2 separate regions of the Homo sapiens genome follow, and region 1 is linked to region 2. The links come from fine-mapping of genetic effects on gene expression. A gene starts in region 2. The other region holds a variant in brackets. All regions are shown on one strand. Distances are from middle to middle.

Region 1 (2,500 bases), 130 kb before region 2:
AGCCCTCAGTAAATGTTAGTATTATTGTTTTACTACTCAGTACTTTTATATAAAGAGATATGTCTTTGATCTTTCTGTTTATGGGTAGTAATACTGTTAGAATCAGACCTGTGTTAGAATTACAGACAGTTCCATGGTTAAAATAAGTTACACTTCAGATATGTAAGTGTTGGTGCACATTCAAATGTGGATATGCATAAAGAAAGGCTGGGTTTCCAGCCCAGTCCACAAAAGCCACTTTATGAATGAAAATCTATAGCATATTTGAATTATTTGTCCTAATAATACTGAATCCAAAAGCCATTTGCCTATGTTCCCAAGGAAAACTTCCCTTTACAGTTTAACTCCATATTCTCGGTTTATAAGAAAGACTATAACTTCTGAAGGGTAACTGTTCATATTGCTTGAGAAGCATGGATTGAGGTGTTCAGGAGAGCACTAGATAGCTGCCAAGGTATCTGTAGCTTCTTAACTCAGTGTCTGCGTTGGAGAGAGTCCCCGCCTGGGTGTGCTGGGCCAGGGAGGGGGCCCTGTCAGTGTCAGTCTCACTGCAGATGTCCGATTTGGGAAACAAGTGCCTATTACCTCATATTCTCCCAGGTTTTTTGTCATTTAAGTTTACCTCATCTTAGTTTGAGGCCTGGCTGCTTATGAAAATATCAGTAATAGCTGATTATTGGCAGTCATTCTCCCCCCAACCTGCCTATGTTTCAGGTTCATAAAATTTTAATCATGGGCGTAGAAGTGAGTGACTTCATAATCTCCCTGGTCTTTCCCATCATTCTCTTATTGACGGAGGCAACTGGTGGAGTGGAGAGGCAGGGGAGCACTGTTGGGCCAGCTTTGTGAAGCCATATATCTTCTTGCTAGTTGGTTACTAAATAAAAAATATTTGTGATAATCATACAGAGTACTTAAGAAGTATATTTATTATTAATGGTAATAGATTTTAATCACTGACAAAAATCACTTTGGTTATTATTTATTCTAATATGCATTTTGCATACTACTGCCAGGAATTTGTTTGCATGTCTGATGTATAATCACGAGCGTGTTAGAATTGTTTAAGTGCTTTCTGTAGGAAACAGATGGAAGATTTCCCCAACTCCCAGAGTGTTTCCGATTAGCAAAGTGCACATCAGGCAGGATCTGTGAACCTCTCAGATAGGGGTTTTTTTGAAGCTGGATTTGATAAG[G/A]CTCTGTGACGGATACCTGTAATGAGAAATATCATCAGAGTTTTATTTTTAAATGATCTAAATTTGGTTTGCCAGGAGCTACAGTGCATATTTCTGGGGAGTCATAGTTCTTGATGATTATGATCAAAACAGCCTGACCGAACCTGGTCGGAAGTCTGTTTGCCCTAAGAGGATATGAGTGACCCAGATTCTTTGTGGATGAGAGAGTTCCTTATCTTTGCATATATTGGGTTTAGAAACAGATGGCCAAATGTATCCGCCTTGATTTTCTGATGTGTTTTTTTACTTTTCCTCAGGTATCTCTCCTCTTTGTCACAACCTCTTTGCCCTGTATGACGAGAACACCAAGCTCTGGTATGCTCCAAATCGCACCATCACCGTTGATGACAAGATGTCCCTCCGGCTCCACTACCGGATGAGGTATGGGAAGTACTGACCTGGTACCTGCCTGGCTCCCTCTGCACTGAGGGACAGTGGTCAGCCTGGAGCCCTGAGTCACTTACCAAGAAGTATTGTAGTCATTTTTGTAATTTGTAACTTTTGTATTTGCTTGATGTGAGAAAGGACTTCTTCAGTATTTGGAATACAATTCAAGATGAGTTTGATCACCTTCCTCTGCCACATTTTAGAAAAGAAATCTTGATAAGGCAGAGGATATTTTGAATAGAATTAGTGTCCTACAGCAGAGTTTTTCAAATGGGTAATCATAGTTATGAATTTAATTTAGTGGATTCACAGTTATGAATTCAATTTAATTTAGTGAATTTAAGAAAAAGAAACAGGAGACGATACTATCAGCATATATACATAACCTAAGTATATTTTTTAAACTTTTGAGATATATATATATATATATATATATATATATATATATATATATATACACACTATATATATAAAGGTCATGATATAAAATATTTTTCTTACTAAAAGTTGCAACTAAAAAGCTCGAGAAACATTGCCTGAAGTGTTAACTAGAAATTCTAGGTTGGCCTTGCTCTCTGGGAGTGGATGTTTTGACTACTCCTTGAGGATTTTTGGCTGTGGAGCTGTAATTTTTCTTCTGATGGGCACCTGCCTTTTCTCCCATATTGCAGACTTTGAGAAATGTCACAGGTGACACAGACAGTCAGTACTTCAATAGCTGCAGTCTCCTGAGTTTGTAAACATATTTGTTCAGTAACTAGAATGGAAAATATGTTAGTTACATACTTGCTAAGCAGAAGTTAATGTGTGTTTAGCAGTGGAGATTATAAATAGGGTGGATCCTTTTTGAAAAGCAGGTTAACTTACAGAGGTATTAA
Region 2 (3,028 bases):
ATCAAAGAAATGATTTCAAGCTTTTGATAAAACAAAAATATATATGCATAGGAAAAGAGAAAAGAACAACATCCCAGGATAACAATGGTTATCTTCAGGTATCAGAAATATGGGTAATTTCTGTGTCCCCTTTGTGCTTCTCTGTCTTTCCTAGCTCTCCTACAATGAGCATGCAGCTTTTGAAATCAGGGGAAAAAAAAAGTTAAATAGATGCAGAGTTTCTAATCTTAAAAGCAACAGTTAATCTGGATTAAATACACAGAGTAGCTATCTTTAAACCTCATCCAAGTCACTGAGAACAAACCCTCCAGTACTGTACTTGGCGTAGCAGGAGGCGGCTGCAAGGCTCCAAGGAGCGCAGCAATAACTCTATTCTGGGGCCTTAGCAAACTGAGAAGACAGAGTTGTTTCATAGAAACTTGGGCAAGTGCTTCTGCAACAACAGCGAAACTCACTCCCAGCTCTCTCGTGCCCCTGCCCCCTATGGCACTCCCGAGCACCGGGGACTATACGTTGGAGCCCTCGCCCCTGCCAAGGTGCTCCCGAAGCTTCGGCCCCCTCTACCCCCGCTCCCCCCCGCAAAATGTGTGCTCCACAACTCACCTCCACTCTCCTTCACCTCCTACTCCTCTACGGCCGTAGGGGAAGGAAAGACCGGGCCGAACTTGGAGGCAGCAGCCCCTGATTCCCGTGACCTTGGAGAAGCCGCTTCGCCACTCAGAGCCTCAGTTTCCCAATCTGCCCCCCTCCCTGGCAGGGCGTCTGCAGGCTAGAAACCCCAAGAACTCAGTCAAACCGAGGGGCCGCTCTCACCACTCGGCGCCGACCCACTCCCCAGGACCGCTCTGAGGCGCCCCCGATCCCAGCCTGGACACGGAGCGCCGCCCCGCCGCCCCTCGGGACGCGTCGCCCCTATCACCGTCCCAGTACCTGGCAGTTGCTGTCCTGGGGCAGGTTTTTCACCAGGATTTTCCTGCGGTTGCTCAGCTCCCGCTGCATCCGCTGCAGTCGCGCGGCGACCTCCTCAGGGTGCAGCGCGGCGGGCATCGGGTCCGGGGCGCCCTCGTGCGCTTCGGCTGAGGGGCCCTGCCCGCGCAGCCCCGGCCCCGGCCCCAGCCCCGCCGCGCTGCCCAGGCCCGCGCCCCCCTCGCCGCCGCCGTCTCCCGCCGCCGCCGCCATCTTCCCGGGCGCCCAGCGGCTGCGGACTCCTCGGAGGCTCCAGGGGAAGCGGAGAGAGAAAGCGGGAGGAGGCCCGGGCGAGGGCGAGGCGGGCAGAGGCCGCAGAGTGGGCCCAACCGCGGGGAAGGGGGGCGGTGGGAGGAGGGAGTAGAGAGAGGCGGCGCCGCAGCCAGCAGCCTGCTGGCGGGGAGAGGAAACCTGAGGCGCCGAGGAGGAGCCCGAGAACCACCTCGCGGGAACCTCCCCCGCCGGCCCCCGGCCCCGGCGCACAGGCGCGCCCGCGCCCGCCTCTCGCGGGTCCGCAGGCGGGGCCGGGCGCCGCCACCCGGACACCTGTGAGGGCGCGGACGCGCAGGCGGGCTCCCCCTCTCTGCGAGGCCTTCGCGAACGCCCAGGGTCGTTCTCTGGGGGATGCGGCCCCTTCGCGGTGGCTTCGCCGGGAGACTCAGCCCCAGGCGCCTGTCCCCGGCTGGCCCCCCATGTGACGCCGCAGCTCTCCCCCGGCTCCCCTCGAAACTCCCGCGCTGGGGCGGCCCGGGGGCTGCGGGCGCGAACTCGGTCTTCCCACACCCGAGATGGGGCTGGAGGGGTGGCAGGAGGGCGCCTCCTGCAGCCCGGCTGGCTCCCGATGGTAACCCTTCTGTTGGTTCAAGAAGAGCATATTTGGCAAAGTTTGAGTTTACAATGAGATTTTCTGGGGAGTAAAAAGAGGGACATTGTGGGAGAAATGTTATGTATTTGGTAAAACCTGATCGTAATGTATTTTGCTAGCTGTGTATGAGAAAGCCTGTGCCCTTCACCTGTCCCTCTGTCCCTGTCATGCAGTTCCTAAAATGTAAAACCTGGGTAGTTGGGTCTGCAACATGGAAAGTGATGCTGAAACAAAGACTAGAATGGAAAAGGAGCTGTGGCAGAGGGGCTGGAGAATACGCTGCTTGGAACATTATTTTAATTGAAACTTGGAGGGAGAGTTACAGTGTAGAACTATACTTAGTCAAACGGATGTCATCAGATCAAACAATCCAGCAGCCTTTGGCACTAGCCCAGGTGACCATCAGCGAAGGGGACCATGCATCTTAATTGTGTAGCATGCAAGTACACTAGCAAAAAAAAAAAAAAAAAAAAAAAAAAGACTTTAACACTAATTAAAAGAAAAACAAAATGTTTTAAAGATTTTTTAAAAATACTACAAATTCAGTCCTTACCATGTGCTCCCCCCAACCACGCATTTCTAAATGCTTTACATATACATATTTATTTACTCTTCATGATCATTCAATTACGTAGGTTTTGTTTTCCTCACTTTACACGTGAGGAAATGGGATCTGTTCTGATTGATTCCAAAGCCCAGTGTTCTGAATAACATAAAATAATTCACCCGTAATCCGTCCACCCAAAAATAATGGCTGCTAATACTTGTATCATTAAAATGATATTCGGCAATACACCCTTCTATACCACCACTATTCCTGGTAACCAAAGGATAGAAACAACCCAAATGTCCATTTATTGATGAACAGATAGGCAAAGCGTGGGATATATATATGCTAAGAAATATTTTTAGCCATAAAAAGGAATTAAGGACCCCTACAAGGTGGACGAACCTCCAAAGCATTAAATGAAAGAAGCCAGAGACAAAAGGTCATATATTGTATGATTCCATGCGTATAAAATATCAGAATAGGTAGATTCATAGAGCGGAACACAGATTGGTGTTTACCAAGGGCTGGAGGAGAAGGTAATGGGTGCAAACATCCTTATGGAATGATGAAAATCTAGTTTTGGAACTAGACAGAGGGGGCAGTAGCCCAATAATATGAATGTACTAAATAGTCACTGAACTATTCAC

Direction of the effects. Alleles are on the strand shown, and positions count from the first base shown. SD is a standard deviation of normalised expression in the study named.
As copies of G replace A in region 1, the expression in spinal cord of the gene that starts at base 1,277 in region 2 goes up (small effect, 0.22 SD a copy in GTEx).

Evidence for each region. PIP is the estimated chance that this variant, and not a neighbour inherited with it, causes the effect. A credible set is the group of variants that fine-mapping cannot tell apart.
Region 1: its variant is the best candidate, but not a certain one, in a credible set for the expression of RAVER2 in spinal cord (GTEx, PIP 0.57).

The regions. Positions count from the first base shown.
Region 1 is chr1:64,878,141-64,880,640 of GRCh38, reverse strand. It overlaps JAK1 (Janus kinase 1), which reads left to right. Exons shown (of 25, transcript NM_002227.4): 4 at 1,493-1,616. Among named protein-coding and RNA genes, the nearest start is that of JAK1, 87 kb to the left of the region's middle. The variant G/A (reference allele first, on the strand shown) is at 1,197.
Region 2 is chr1:64,743,324-64,746,351 of GRCh38, reverse strand. RAVER2 (ribonucleoprotein, PTB binding 2) reads right to left here and starts at 1,277. Exons shown (of 12, transcript NM_001366165.2): 1 at 931-1,277. The coding sequence starts at 1,179. RefSeq lists silencers at 1,304-1,503, 1,524-1,623.